5 separate regions of the Homo sapiens genome follow, and regions 2, 3, 4 and 5 are each reported to be linked to region 1. Evidence: microRNA targets listed by miRTarBase, many of them from high-throughput screens and not tested one by one. Region 1 holds a microRNA gene; each other region holds the end of a gene's coding sequence.
What was found. Region 1 holds the annotated microRNA hsa-miR-320c (AAAAGCUGGGUUGAGAGGGU, at 1,729-1,748, shown strand). A microRNA usually pairs through its seed, bases 2 to 8, with sites in the 3' UTR of a target mRNA and lowers its output. Matches are read on the target gene's strand: a 7mer-m8 pairs with bases 2 to 8, a 7mer-A1 pairs with bases 2 to 7 and ends in A, and an 8mer does both.

Region 1 (3,000 bases):
AAAAAAAAAAAATTTAATTAGCCAGGCACGGTGGCATGTGCCTACAGTCCCAGCTACCACTGCACTCCAGACTGGGTGACAGAGTGAGACTCTGTCTCTAAAAACAAAAAGGGGGGCTGGGGGTGGTTTAAAATAATAATATTTTTATAAATACCAAACATCTGGTATGTGTTGGCAATTTTTTTGTATGATATCCCCTAATGAGGGTCTGTTATGTACCGATTACTATTTTAGGCACTGAGGATTCAGCAGTGAACATAACAGAAAAAATACTGGGGGGATGGGAAAGCATAGAAGGTGGGAAAGACAGATGATAAATTAATTCTTAAAGATACAGCAGACAATGAACCACGGTACGCCCAGACTTTTTAAATAAATGATTTGACAGAGTAACTGGGATACCACTTTAGATTGGAGGATGAGGGGTTGATCAGGGAAGGCCTCTTTGAGGAAGGGATGTCTAGGTTGAAAAGAAGGATCCAGCCTTGTGAAAATACAGGGAAGGACATTCTAGCAGAGGAACAGCTGATGCAAAGGCTCTGAGGTAGGAACAATTCAGCAGGCAAGAGATAAAGTCAGAGAGGCACGCAGAGGCCACATCACACAAGGGGTTTGTAGGCCAGACTTTTGTAAGCCAGCATAAGGAGTTTGAGTTTTATTCTAAATAGGATGAAAAGCCACTGAAGGGTTTTAAGTAAGAGTAACATGATCTGACTCATGTTTAAAACTCTGTCAAAGTGTTAAAAAATTATAATATAGGCCGGGTGCAGTGACGCATGCCTGTAATCCCAGCACTTTGGGAGGCCGAGGTGGGCAGATCACCTTAGGTCAGGAGTTCGAGACCAGCCTGGCCAACATGGTGAAACCCCCATCTCTACTAAAAATACAAAAATTAGCTGGGTGTGGTGGCAGGCACCTGTAATCCCAGCTACTCTGGAGACTGAGGCAGGAGAATCACTTGAACCTGAGAGGCGGAGTTGCAGTGAGCTGAGATCGCGCCATTGCACTCCAGCCTGGGGAACAAGAGCAAGACTTCGTCTCAAAAAAAAAAAAAAAAAGAAAAGAAAAGAATAATAATAATAACTGGGAAAACACAAACTTTGGCAGTTCCATGATTTTGATAAATTACTAGAATATTATTAATAGGATAATGCTATTGTGCTTATGTTTTTTAATAGCCCCATTGAGATACAAATTAACATACAATTTACTCACTTAAACTGCACAAATTCAATGGTTTTTATAGGTGCACAGAGTTGTGCAACTATCACATGCTTGTGGTTTTTGTTAAAGGGTGTCCTTATTTTTTACTAATATACTGGACTACAGATGTTCCCCAACTTACAACAGTTCAACTTAATGGTTTTTCAACTATCACAGCTCACCACAGCCTCGACCTCTTGGGCTCAAGTGATCCTCTCACCTCAGCCTCCCTGGTAGCTGGAACTGCAGTCATGTGTCATCACACCTGGCTAATTTTTGTATTTTTTTGTAGGAATGGGGTTTCACCAGGTTAGTCTCAAATTCCTAGGCTCAAGCGATCTGCCAGCCTCAGCATCCCAGAGTGCTGGGATTACAGGTGTGAGCTACTGTACCTGGCCTTAAGTGTATTTTCAATTTACAATGGTTCTATGAGGACGTGGCCCCACAGTAAGTTGAGGAGCACTGGGTATGTATGAATAAAATGGCATGACAGGCCTTCTCTTTCCAGTTCTTCCCAGAATTGGGAAAAGCTGGGTTGAGAGGGTAAGAAAAGAAAAACAAATAAATTTTTTAAAAAGAAAAAGAGATGGCATGATATCTGGAATTGTTTCACAAGAATTCAGGGAGTAGGAAGAGATACAGAGTGGCCATTATTGCTAAGTTCTGGAGGAGGGTGATGGGTACATCAATTAATTATGCTATTTGATTTCTGAAGCTTTGATAATTTCCATGATTTTTTTTAAAAAGGTCACTCTGGCTGTTGTGTGCAATATGGCTTGTAAACGTGGGCAAAAGAAATGCAGGGAGGCTAATTACAAAGAGATGGCAATAGTGCAGGTAAAGGATACTGGTGGTTTGGACTAGAAAGTCAGTAGTAAAATGGAGATCATTTTTAACATAGAGAGAAATATGTGACTTTTTTTTTTTTTTTTTTTTTGAGACAGAGTTTCCCTCTGTTGCCCAGGCTGGAGTGCAGTGGCACCATCTCAGCTCACTGCAAGCTCTGCCTCCCGGGTTCATGCTATTCTCCTGCCTCAGCCTCCTGAGTAGCTGGGACTACAGGCGCCCACCATCACGCCCGGCTAATTTTTTGTATTTGTTTTTTTTTTTTTAGTAGAGATGGGGTTTCACTGTGTTAGCCAGGATGGTCTCGATCTCCTGACCTCGTGATCTGCCCGCCTGGGCCTCCCAAAGTGTTGGGATTACAGGTGTGAGCCACCGTGCCCGGCCTTGTATGTGGCTTTAAGATTTATTTTGGAGGAAGATTTATAGAGCTGCTGATGGGGAACCTGGGGCTGGTGATACATTACTTCTTTAGTGGGGAAAAAACTTTTTAAAACATTAACCAAAAAATTAATACTCAGTTTAGTTTTTCTGCCTAGCACATAGGAAAATGCCTTATAGAGGTCTGCCAATTCTGTGTTATTTTCATTCTACCTACAGGGCACTTTGGAGAAATTATTTCTTTAGGCAGAGAGAAAGACAACACTATGATTTCTTTCATAGAATTCTGCCCTAATACCAAAAATAAATTCTGAACTCCTGCCAACTAGATGAAATTCCAGAAGAGAGACCTCATTTCTGGATTTGATGTCTAAAATGCCTGGCACACAGTAAGAATTCAATAAAATGCTTTTGAACTAAATGAAATAGCCTCCTAGATGGAATCTAGATGGGTTCCACCACCAGTTAAAAAATACACTATCTCTCTTACCAACCACAACAAAATAAAGTGAAAAACAGGAATGATGTAATATTTAAAAGTTTGCATGACACAGATTTGTCCCTTAATGGGAA
Region 2 (3,000 bases), not on the chromosome of region 1:
ATGGCAGACACAGAATCCTCTTCTTTTGCTTCACTCGATTTATAAGCATCCTGAAAACAATCACTTCTTTTTTTCTGCACAGGGTTTATATCTGTGAGTACCCAAAAGCTGTCCCCCAAGGTTCACAGAATCTTCTGCCCTCAAGGCCTGCCTCCAACTTGGGACTGTCTAAACTGCATCCTGACAAACATTATCCCATTCACCAAGCAAAGCTATTTCTCACACCTGGAGGTGCCAGGATGTTGGCCATCATTTTTGGAGAACTTCCACTCATTTTCACTTTGACCATGCAAATGAACAGTGGGTGAGGTACCCTCAAAATGTATGTTCCTTACACATCATGAAGGTGGGCAGTCGGGAAGGAAGCCCGAGTCACAGAATTTTAACTGCTGATCAAACCAAGACCAGGTGGGGCCAAATGTTTAGGTTCTTCATAGGATATATGAAGAAACTGGTGTATGAATGCAGAGAATGGGACTAGAATCCAGAAATGGTGTTCCATTTATTCACTGAAAAAGAGAGAGATTAGGCCTTCTTCATTCATTTTCTCCATTCTTGCCAAACTCCCTCCCCTCATTTTTTCCAAAATAACAACACACTGAGAAACATGTTTGTACAAAAACCACATATTATTCCCCCCCCTCACAAAATCAGGTGGCTGAATTACAGGAATAAAACCAGATCAAAGACATGAAAAGAAAAAGCCACCACTTATACTGAAATATAACAGTGTTAAGAATTCAGGTATTTTGTAGAATTATTACTATAGTAAAAATATTTCCACCTGGATCTTTTAAATTTGAAAGTGATCACATTAAAGACCTGAGGTTACAAGGGACCACAGTATGAACCAGAATTCCATTTTCCTTCTCGGACTCCAGGGGAAAAAAGAAGTATTTGGAATGAGTTTCCTTTGGGAAAGACTGGCAGGAAGTAGGTAAAACCCTGGCCATTGTCAAAAGGCACTGGGGTCTTTCTGGAGCCAAATGCATTGGAACTAAGCTCCAGTAGGAATAAACTCATTCTCATTTCCACTCCCAAGAGTCCAGAACAAAAACAAAAGGACCAAGGTCTCCTCGGTTCCCGTATTCCAGTACTCTGATGGTGACCAGGGACACCTGGTTAGAGGCAAACCTGAGGGTTTGAAAGGCAAATCTCAATTGTGGTTTTATTTTTTTGCTTTCTGATATTAAGGAAAAAAGTTCTCAAGTGTTTTATAAACACCTCCCTATACCCTCTCATATGTAAAGCTTTAGAAAATATATAGAAAAAGATATCCAAAAGATGTCCACCTTGCATTCTAAATAATGAAACTGCCACTTGAGAATGTGAAGTGAGAAAGCCAGGCGCTTTGGAAACCAAGCTCTACCAAAAACACCCTTTCCCCACACATGGAAGGACAGAAGGGAGGGAAGGACAAGAGGAAAAAACCGGGAACTCTCAAGTCACTTATCAGCAGGGGTAAATACGAGCTCAAATTAAGGCATTTTTGTGGCTTGTCCTCTGGAATGGCATTCTACCCTCCCAGCCTGAGCACCCCAAACCTCAAAGCATGATGCTCTGACTGCCAAGTGAGTTCCTTGTTACCCTCAGCATCTCTTTGAAAACCCTGTGATAGATGGAATGTGAGATCTCAGAAATGGAAGGGAGAAGGTATAAGGAGCTAATATCCTGCTTCACTTTTCCCGTCCCATCCTAACCTTAAAAGTACCGGTTGACGAAATTCCACTCCCTGGCTACTGTAACAAGAGGTAGTTTGGGGACTTGTACCCCCAGCCATCCTAACCAAGTTTCATGAGCTAAAATATTTAGCACTATCTACTTTTTTTTTTCTTTTAAAGGGTTTTTTAAAGAGGGAGAAAAAAATGCACACAAAGCAGTGAATAGTAGGCTAGACTCATTGGGGGTAATTACCCTAGACTCCTAACTTTCCAGGCTAGTTGAGGAAACTAAGGAATGCCTCCCAATATTCCAACCCTCAAAGCTCACACTGCCCCCAGAAAAACAAAACACTCACCCCCAATCCAATGAATCATCTGCATAGAAAACCAGAGCCAGCAGGCCTAGGGAAGGAGCGGATGTTTGTGCCCTCCTCTAGCACATACTAGTTCAGTGGTATGTTCTGCCAGGCAGTGTGGAGGCCCTCAGAGGCCTCACTAGGGAATAAAATCACTGAGGTTCTCCTTCCACATCTCGTTTAATTTTCACAAATTTGTGTGTGGCAAAAGTCTCAAACTTTACCATCAGCACCATTCTTAGCTCAGAAAAGCAGAAATAAGGTCACTTATAATGCCTTAAGGTTTGTCCCCTGTGGCTATTCCCCCCCTTCTGCCCATCATTATTTTTTGGTTCCTATTAACTTAGGATGCTCTCCTTTAAAACAATAATAACAGAAAGATAAAAAGATAATGATTATATAGCATTATCCATAGAAGCATAAGACAAAGCAAAAAACTGCAAGAGAGCAAAAATGGTAAAGACATAGCATGCTAAAGTTGACAGGACCTGCAGAGAAACTGTCAGCTTACTCCCACACCAGGACAGGGGAGATGCAGGTTATTTTAAGGATGACCAGGGCACACTGTCACTACAGGTTTCCCCTTGAGTGTTGGCTGAGGACCCAACACAAAAAGTGTCAGAGAGAGGGGTGGTAAGAGGAGTGGGGAGGCACGGGACACGTGCTTGGAGCTGTGAGAAGAAAAATCCTGAAAGAAACCCAAGAAAGTTGAGGAACACAAGTCTTGTCATCCCCACTCCAGCTCATGGTGGTGGGCGTGGAGGTTCCCTGCATCTTCCAGGCTAAGGAGCAGCTGAGGCTGGCGGGCCAGGAGCAGGAGGCGGAGGGACCCCATCTGCAGGTGGTGGTGGCGGTGGCTGCTGCTGTGGTGGAGGGGGATCTGCAAACATATCCAAGAGTAACTCGTTATTGCTGGAAATACAAGAGACTCAGGAAAGAGCCTATTCAGTGAAAAAAAGACACAGAAGTCCTTTCCTTAGTGG
Region 3 (3,175 bases), not on the chromosome of region 1:
CACCCTTACATTTGTTAGAGAAGGCATGATTATTCCTTAACTAAAATTTTGGAGGGTAGAGCTTTCTCCATGAGACAGCAATTTGCAACATTATTGCCTGTTGAGCATACTAATTTGCCCTTCCTAGTTCTTTTTATTTTGCATCTTGGTGATAAAGTTGTAATTTTCATACTGCTGGATAGCACTTAGAATCAGGACTTGTGTCACTATTTATGTAGGTGAAATACATGGCTAATGTTATATACTTCTGATACTTTTATATTTTAAAAGGACGTATCATTTCTCTGAAAAATTGAGGAGGTATACTCAGGCCATTTTAATGCCCAGTTATAAGAAACAGCGAGGTGCTCCCCAACTAAGATTTTTTTTTTTTTTTTTTTTTTTTTTTTTTTTTTTTTTTTTTTTTGAGACAGGGTCTCAACTCTGTAGCCTAGTTTGGAGTGCAGTGGTGCAATCACAGCACACTGCAGCCTTGCTCTCCTGGGCTCAAAGTGATCCTCCCACCAAACACTACCCCCTATCGTTGAAATCCTTAAAAACCAGAATACATCAGATGCTGAAGTGTTATGTCCAGTTTGCCAACAATGCTATTTCTTTGTTGATTCCGTAAGAGCTCTCCCATCCCAGCAATACAAATAAAACAGAATTAAGTTTTCTGTGAAAACAAGTACTGAATAGGGCTGAATGGATAACTTGGTCAATGCTTTCATACAACTTGAAAAATCACTGATTAATTCTCCACTTCTTTCTCTCTTTAGCACTCTTTAGCATGGATTTTTACATGGTAAAGACCTGTGGGAATTATGGAGGGAAGCATGGACATTTGTTATAATTTGGTAAGGCATAATATAGTACTTGAGAAAGACAAATGTGACATTTTTGGAATGTACTCTTTTGTAGTAAGTCGTCATAAATTTCAGCACAAATGAGCTACTGATGATGCTACATTATGGGCTTTTAACAAAAGACCAATAGTTTTTATTATCTCTAGGTTTGATGAACGATTTAATCATCAGTTTAGGTTTCACTAACAAAACATTAGATAATTTGATCTGGGGTACAGTATTTCAACATTTAGTTGGGAAAATTTCAACTACCTAGGTAGTTGAAATATTATTTAAATTATATTAAAGAAATTTAATATAATTGAGAAAAATTAGAGCAAAAAACTCACAAAAGACTTTGTCACCAGAAGTATTTATTCCCAAAAGAATGACATATCTTGAGAACAAAGTAACTTTTGAAATTCATTTTGTGTTTAGGTACCAACAATTGTTAATGACGCTCAGTTCATATTTTCAGAATATCACATTGATAATGGTACTATAATATATCCTGGCCTACCAGAGTTCCATGGATTTAAATAAATAAAATTTAATTCTGCCTTTTATAACATGCAGGGTTGTTTTATGGTTGTTGAGTTTTGTGTGAGTGTGTGTATTTGTGTGTGCCTCTCCTTCTTATTGAAGGATTCAGACAGCTATAATGCTAAAATGTTTTGTGTGTGTGTGCATGTGTGTATTTTTAAAACAATGTCTATACTTCTGCCTCTATTGATGCCATTCTTTTGTTGAACCTGTAAAGGTAAGGCCCAGATTCTGAAACCTGGTTAAAGTCACTAATATTTCTCTGTGAGGCCCCTTGTTAGCTACCAGCCCTCCCCTATCCACACTCCCTATCTTGCTGACATGTGTGTAAGCCCAAATCATCAGTAATCACCTCAAGGCTGATGACCTGTAGGCTTATAATTCCTCAATTAATTTTTATTGCTCTTACAATATTTGTAAGATGAGTGAGAATAGCTATTTGACACCTTAATATATATGTATGGTATATGTTAAGTTTTAGGCTGTAATTTCTTTTAATATACTGACAGTATGATGACACATGAAAAAGCAAAATATCAGTCTGTAATAAGATATAAATTATCCTTTATTAGGTACCCAAATAATCTTTAAAAAGAAGCTAGAATTAAAAAAAAAAAGGATAGCTGCTTTTATGATCAATTTATTAGAAACTACTGTGGCAACTGTTTACAATGTGTTCATTCTTTAGACCTAGTCAAAACTTATTACTAATTATTTTGCTAAATAGAAAAACTTCAAGCCAGTAGGAAATCTCAGTTTTTTAAAAAAATTGCTGTTATTGTATTATTAGTCAGGGTTACTCTGGCAGCAAAGCAAAAATGTTCAGATGCCACTTCTCCTAGCTTTTATGTTTGGCTTTCAGAATGAGCAGTTGGTCATTATCAGTATTATTATAATATGACCAGTTAATAAGTCTGACAAACATTTTCCAACCTGTCATTTTTGAAAAGGAGAGGATATTTTTGATACAGATACACAATATACAAAAAATCCCAGAGCTTGAAATTTCATGCATCCTGTGCCTACAAATAAGAAACTAAACATTAATCTAGTTAGTTATCTATGTGTATAAAGAAAAAAAAGCTGCTAATCAATATTCCTGCTAAAAAATAAATTATTACAAAACATAGGCAACTTCCTCTCTCCATTATAAATGATCAAAAACCGAGGTAAAAATCTAGTGTTTCCCCAATCAATGAAAACAATATATACCAAGTAAATGACTAGTCAAGTCTAGAAGAGAGTAATGCAAAAATGAGCCACTCATATTTTAGGTATAAGTGACAAATATATTTCTCTTTATTACTTTTAAGGTTTTCTCTAATGTCTTTTGGTAGTGGAAGCATTTTATTTGATTCCACTGTTGCTCATGGTTTGAGCCCTACATACTCCCTTCCCTTTCACCTCAAAGGGAACTCCTTTGTATGTAGCCACACACTCATCATTAGTGTGAAGATCAGGCTGGATCTGCTCCCAAATCTTCTTCTTAGGATTCAGCTCCTTGTCAGGCTCTCCTGTGTAGGAGAAAAAAAGCACAAGAAAATTACACAGCTAATATACAAAAATATTAAAGAGACTATTCACAGAGATTTCCAGTGAATTGTTTTGGCAACATTTTCTGATTTTTGGACCTAATCAAACTTTTAACATTTACTTTATTTTTATTATGTCAGCAGTTTATATTCTTGATTGGTAAAATAAAATCGTTGTTGTTTCTTTATGTATATTAAAGATATCATATTTTACTCTTATATTTTATAAGTAATAAAGCTTAATGAATTGTATCCAAATTATCAAAATAATAAAAT
Region 4 (3,212 bases), not on the chromosome of region 1:
TAAATGCACATCGCCCTGGTGTGTGCCTCGCAACACTCACTGCAGTAGGTTTGTTTTTCCAAAAAGAAATTTAATTTAACCCAAGTGTACACTGTCACACTGTAAACACATGGGGCACCAAAAGGGTGGCTTATTGAATTTAATGCCCTGGCAAAGGTCACCTTTTAGAAAAAGCCAAAAATGGCTGGAATCTTTCCTGATAGCTCTTCAGTCAGGCTTTGGATGCAGGCAGATGTGTTTATTTTTTCAGAGGGAGTTCCTGAGGACCCATCTCAAGTTCAGGCGCTGGGCATCCCCCTCCCATCGCCCTCTTGTGCTCTCAGAGACCTCCCTCCTCCTCCTCCTGGGAGGTCACTGTCCCTGGTCACCCAGGTGGGCCCCTGAGCCAAGCAAACTCCCTAAAGCTGGCGGTCTGGGAGGGAGGGCCTGGGACCCCCACTGCCCGCCCCTCCAGGCTAGAGTGTGTGGTGCTTTTCTTATAACTAACACTGCCTTTCTCTGCCCATTTCCCTCAAAGGATGGCATGAACTGGGTCTGCAAAAATGTCAATGCAAAGAAGAAATAAAATCTAGACGAATGGAGATGCAGGAGCTGCGGGAGCCGAATTCGGTCCTGAAAAACACTAATTTGCTGCTTTCTGACCAAATGTTTTTCCATCTGTGTACAGCTCCAGCTGTTTGAAGAGAGGGAACAACACGGTTTAGAAAGAATCCCCATTCCAGCAGTAGATTTAACTGATCTCTGAGGTTCAGTATCATTTTTCAAATAAAGGAATTATATTATTTCCTCTGCATAATTGAAATAGTATTAAATGTCTCAAAGCACATGATTAGAAAATGAGATCTTTTAAATGAGCAAGAGATTGCATTGCAGTTTAGACAATTCCAGTGGGCTTTTTTTTCCTCTCAAAAAAAAAAAAAGAAAAAGAAAAAGAGGAAGAAGCAGCTTTGCTGAGTTCATTTATTTACTGACCCGTCCCTTGCATTCCCTCCATGGTTTTGAAACCACAGACAGTGTTTGCTGGTGCTGTCAGTGATTTTTACCGTCACTAGCCCAGCCAGGCTTCAGTCTGTCCGACAGGAAGCTGCTGGGTGGGGGTGGGGGGAGAAAAGGCAGATAATTAAACCATCTCATCGTCTTGCAGGTCGGAGACTACGTATGTAATCCTCACTCTTTGGACAGAAAAAAAAAAAAAAGTCTTTCTTGCAGACAAGTCACTACAGAAACATACCCCATCCCACCCACCCCTGCCTCTGCCCCAGCCAGCCACACAGAGAAGCAAATTCTTATGACTTTTGACTGTAATGACATCTGGAATGTAAGGAGAGGTGGGAGGTTTAATTCCAGAAAAATTACAAGGTCCTTAAAAAGCTCTCACATCGAGGGCTCAGGCTAGCGTAAACAGGCTTTCTCCAGCTCAGTGGAGCAGTGAGCAGCCGACTCTGAGATTAGCTGGCTTCTCCACGGCCGTCCTATAGACAGGATTTCTAAAGCTCAAAGAATTCTGTGTTTAAACGATCACAATAGGCCGCTGCTATCAGATTTTAGAAATAAATGCAGCTTTACCATGAACCTGCTCCACTGAGAAAAGCCAGGCAGATCGATTTTTAGATCAATTTTTACAGTGCTGGCAACTTGGTGGTGTGGGATGCTCCTGGATGGAGAGGGTTTGCTGCTGGGGAGGACATGGGTGTGTGTGTGACTGCAGGGGTCGTGTCCAAGGAATCAAGAGTCACCCCAGCTGCTGGGCTCCTCTGCCTCTCTGCAGCAGAATGTCCGTCCTCTGTTGATTGATTGGAGAGGAATAGCAGAACATTTCTCCTGCCCCTCGTTGCAAAACGAGCTTGTTTCCCTGAACCTCAGAAATCCTCAGCTTCAAACATGGGGAAACAGGCCAGAGCATTGCCCGGCTCCTGAATTAAACTCTGTTCTGGTGCCTGAGCTCAGGGGTTTTCAGAGAATGAATAAGAGACTGTCCAGTGACTGGTGGGTCCCTGGGGGCCAGCTGCCTTCTCATCCTGGGAGGTGGCCCTTCCCAAGCCCATCAGGGCGTGTGAGCAGACTGAAGGGGCCGCTGCAGCCCCTGGCCCTCAATACCCAGCTGCTTCTGGCTAAGAGTGCAGCAGAGACTGAGGCATAGCCAGCTTCAAAAGCGATCTGACATGAAAGTCATTAACAAAGCCAGCCGTGAAAAGGTGCCCCAGAGTTGCTGTGGACAGACCTGTAAGGACTTGCAAAACAAAAGAAAGTGAGGGGTTTTTTTAACCTCAGAGCTAGCTGCTCTCTGCAGCCTCCTCCACTGGCTTCTCTGGCTCACCCAAGCTCTCCCTTACAGAGGCAACACAGAATTATAAGGAATCAGAAATCCCCCTTCTACCAGGCTGCAAATGTGGCTCTAGCACTTGCAAATTGTTTTTTCTTCCGAATAGTTCAGCAGGGACAAGTTATCTGAGGGGCAAAATGCCTGCTTGGAGGTCTGCAATTTTGGAACACTGCAGTATGGAACTTTGGCATTGGAGGGTCTGTAAAATATTTTTGTTCTTTTACCACCAACTTAGGGGACTGTTTTAAAGAGCCATCCCAAGGCCTCTCCTAGCAGGCAGAAGCCACTCCTCTGATAACGGCCTCTGTAAATGTTCTGATTTGCTCTCAGCTGCAGAGACACAGAGACACTGCAGATGTCACACGCTTTCATCTTCCCTTTGAGCCCTTTTGAACCCTCCTGGGGCTCTGGGGTAGATGAGAGAAGCCTGAAAAAGGCAGAGTTTGAAAGCTCCCATTTAAAAACAAAATACTTTTTAAAGCCCTCTTGCCTCTTCCCTGCCCACTCCTGCCCCCTGACCAGAAGACAGAATTTGAAGCTGGAAAGGGAAGACCCCTTTTCCCCTCCTCCTGTCCCCAGTGAGTCTTAGCGAGACTTTTGCCCTGCGCACAATTGCATCTGAATGTGCGGGGGAGAGGGCTGGGGGCCGGAGGGCAGGCAAGGCCTGGGGGGTGCTCGTGATATGTGCTCAAGCCAGTTGTGGGAAAAACTCGAGTCCTCCCCTCCTCCCGACCTACCCCGTGTGGCTGCTTTTGGCTGGATTCCCTGCACCCAGTGCAACACACCCTTTCCCCTTCACTCTCCCTTGGTTACTATGGAAACAAGGGTGTCATTGATGTGGGCTGAGCTGGGGAACATGTCGGTGCACAGCTGAAAGTCAGCGATTATG
Region 5 (3,182 bases), not on the chromosome of region 1:
AAAGCACCTCCAAGAATGAAAGGGTACTATTTCTGCTTTGCTAATTTACTCCTGCCAGAGCTTCTGTCCTTGAATATGAGGGCTATCTTCACCTATAGTAAATCCCATCTATTAGACAAGACTAGCTAGCTTATGTTTGGTTATGGGGCAAGGGAGTGGGGGAGAGATTCTGTCCTTTCTGGCTATGGCTTCTTTCTGCACAAGCATGCTCAGCCCCCACCCCAGTCTGAAAAGATACACAAAGGGTTTCCTAGGAAGCTACTTATACACTATGACCCTTAAACATAATTTTTGTATTTCATCTTGAATATTCATGTTCCCTATACTGCCTTCAGAAAAGCAATCCCTGGTCCACAAATTATTCATGTAACAAGCATTTTTCAAAAGCAAAATCTGTTAGGAACATTTAAAAATGAACATTCCTCACTATAACAGCCTGCTCAAAACCCAACAACCTATTTCCAGCTGTTAATATAAGTACATAAAGTCACTAAAAGTAAGCGCAGCCACATCAGCAGATTCTCTGCTCTCTTGTCGTCTTTCTCCACCCATCCCAATGCACAACTGTCAACTGTGCTTATAGACCACCTCCAGACCTGATGGGAGCTGCCACACCCCTTTTAACTTTTGCCAGGCTGTACCATGCCCTCTAGTGGTAGGACTAGGACATCACAATTGTGGTGCAGAGTATTAGCCAAGACAGCTCTCAATTAGGGTTGCCTTCTTTAAGATGCTTGACCAAGGTCAATGTACCCTAACAGAAGTAGCCATTGTGTTTCCCAATGGGTAATGACATAAAGCGGGTAGGGTTATCCATGGCCTTTGTTTGGCCCATAGAAATGAAAGGAGGCTTCTGTGTAATTAATTCTTACTAGACTTCTTTTGATCAAATCCTGAATCACCTTGGTTATCTCAGACATGTCAGGTCTGATGAGACATTTCATAGTAGGCGAAGGTGAAATCACTCAGTGAGATTTTAGAGCAGCTTTCTGTATCATCTTGCTTTACATAGCCACTTGGAACATGGACTTGGGAGGGGAGAGTTACCTACGTCATCCTCGAACCTCACTTTCCCCCCCCCTTAACAGTGATAGAAAGACACTTTTAGAATAGCCGCCCCACCTAAAAGGACACTCTAAATTCACCAACAGTGAAAGCCCAGGCCAAACCTGCGTGAAGCTCTTAGCAGCTACAGGCCACCATTATTGGTTGCCATTAACTCTGTCAGCTGAAATCGTCTTCCCATCACCCACAATGTGTGGTTAATGATTTTATATACAGAGTTTACAAAACTGCTGACTAAAAAGCTCATGGCACTCCTATACTCACGCTCTGGAGAGTTGGTAGAAAAAAAGAATGTGTTCTGATAAAACCTCTGATCCTCACTGTTCACATCCATGTAACAGGGCTCGGTCCCCTCAAAATCTCATGATACAGCTTCTGGGAAGGAGTTATTAACCCTGTCACTTCCCAGATTGCTGATACTCACAATGTTTCCATTTGCAGATTCCTGCCAAGAATGATGAGGCAGGATTAGGCCCAACTGGTGCTCTCCCACTAGCTGCTGTATTTACATACACTTCTGTTCATCATCTCTGCCCGTTTCAGGAGTAGCTGAGAGCTTGAATAGGTGGCGGTAAGCTCCCACCACCACCCCATGCCCAGTGCAGCTACCCGCCTGAATGAAGGCAGCTCCTGGGACATGTGAGGTGTGAGGAGTGGGGGGAAGATCCAGGGAAGTCAGCTGCTTTGTATTTGGGTTTGTGGGATGTAATGGCCTTGGCAGGAATGGTGGGGCCTGAACTGGTATCCTGCAGAGAAATGCTTCTATATCCATCTATCACCTCCTTGCCCTCTGTCTTCCCAATGCTAAGCCCATCTGGTCTTCCTTGCATGCTTTTCTATGCTCTGGTGGTAAGTCAAATCCTTTAAGTGAACCCGACATTGGAAACAAATCAGTTTAATTAAAGTCTCTCTGCTGAGATAATGTAGTGACTGCTAGGATTCCAGATATTTAACTAGAATCTAAATAGTCAAGAGTTCTTCCTTTTCTTTCCCTCCTTGGCTGAGAGATTCACTACTCTGTGGGTGGAACTGTGCCATAGGGCCATTCAATTACTCCTAGACTAGCTGTTGGTAACTAGACTGGGAATCATTTCTACACAAGGAATCCTGTGATGGCTGTGCTGCTGTGTGGGGAGAGCTGCCTCCTGGGACATCCATGCAGTGATTCAGAAGGCCACCAGCATGGCTATGTCTGAATCTCGGAAGTGAATAGGTTCCAGCTAACAAATTATCAGCTCTCCTGTAAGTGGAAGCAGCTCTGCAGTCCACCACACATAAGCACAGCGCATGGAAAATGGGAAGACAGCTTCTTCAGGAGCCCAGGATGTAGGAAGGAGCCAGGACTGGAGAGGGGTCCCTTTCTTCCTTCCAATTGGTTCTGCCCCCCAGAAGACACCTGTAGAGACACTGTGCACTACAGGCATGCACTCACGGGAGGCCACGGAGGGTCCCCTTGACAACACACACAAGAGCCCTGTGTGTGTGCACAAATGCCTCTTGTTAACCTGAAAGAAACCGCTACTGAGGGAAAGACTAAGACTTCAAAAGAATTTGCTTTTCCCGCCAACTCGGCACTGTGAAGCCTGCCTTTCAAGGCTTGATGAACTCTAGTCCTCTTGTAAAAGGCTAATGTGTCCATTGCCACTGAAATACAATAATAGCAGCTTAAAATCCACAATTAGTCACACAACCGAACAACAGGCAACGGGATACATGTTACACTGCACAGGAAGGAGACCTACATTGCAGAAGGGGACGCTGTGAGATTCAAGGTGGAACACAAGGTAACAGTTTGATCTGGCTTCAGAAAAGGAGGCCACATATTAACTTTCTCATTTTACTCAAACAGGAGAGTGGTTTGTTTTGCTGGTAATTTAGTAAGGTGGGAAGTCTTAAATAAGAAGGGGAAAGGGAACGCTTACTTCACTTAAAGAACTTAATCTCCGTGTCAACACAGTCATAGAAAAGGTCCCCCACTTCCGCAGGGTCCAGTGGCTCGGAGCTGGTCAGGATTTCTTCCATGGCTTCCAGGCCTTGCTTCTCCAGCTCCAGCATGGTGCTCCTCAGCTTGCGACCTTGCTCCTGAGGAAGGACACGACTGCTTTAGGTGTCAGCAA

Region 2: miRTarBase lists SMARCC1 as a target of hsa-miR-320c. Seed matches in the 3' UTR shown: 7mer-A1 at 1,246-1,252 and 7mer-m8 at 105-111.
Region 3: the mRNA of AIMP1 is a reported target of hsa-miR-320c. Seed matches in the 3' UTR shown: 7mer-m8 at 2,447-2,453.
Region 4: miRTarBase lists ARL3 as a target of hsa-miR-320c. Seed matches in the 3' UTR shown: 7mer-m8 at 943-949 and 8mer at 1,558-1,565.
Region 5: miRTarBase lists SCRN1 as a target of hsa-miR-320c. The part of its 3' UTR that is shown has no 7-base or 8-base seed match.

Annotation. Positions count from the first base shown.
Region 1 is chr18:24,319,988-24,322,987 of GRCh38, forward strand. It overlaps MIR320C2 (microRNA 320c-2), which reads left to right and starts at 1,688; the gene lies at 1,688-1,759. The region is part of intron 7 of OSBPL1A (oxysterol binding protein like 1A); the gene reads right to left.
Region 2 is chr3:47,585,410-47,588,409 of GRCh38, forward strand. SMARCC1 (SWI/SNF related BAF chromatin remodeling complex subunit C1) reads right to left here. Exons shown (of 28, transcript NM_003074.4): 28 at 1-2,897. The coding sequence ends at 2,800. Among named protein-coding and RNA genes, the nearest start is that of CSPG5, 8.0 kb to the left of the region's middle.
Region 3 is chr4:106,347,232-106,350,406 of GRCh38, reverse strand. It overlaps AIMP1 (aminoacyl tRNA synthetase complex interacting multifunctional protein 1), which reads right to left. Exons shown (of 7, transcript NM_001142416.2): 7 at 951-2,881. The coding sequence ends at 2,715. Among named protein-coding and RNA genes, the nearest start is that of GIMD1, 20 kb to the left of the region's middle.
Region 4 is chr10:102,674,247-102,677,458 of GRCh38, reverse strand. It overlaps ARL3 (ARF like GTPase 3), which reads left to right. Exons shown (of 6, transcript NM_004311.4): 6 at 518-3,212. The coding sequence ends at 565. Among named protein-coding and RNA genes, the nearest start is that of TRIM8, 31 kb to the right of the region's middle. RefSeq lists an enhancer at 3,105-3,212.
Region 5 is chr7:29,920,969-29,924,150 of GRCh38, forward strand. SCRN1 (secernin 1) reads right to left here. Exons shown (of 8, transcript NM_014766.5): 8 at 1-3,147. The coding sequence ends at 2,989. Among named protein-coding and RNA genes, the nearest start is that of FKBP14-AS1, 66 kb to the right of the region's middle.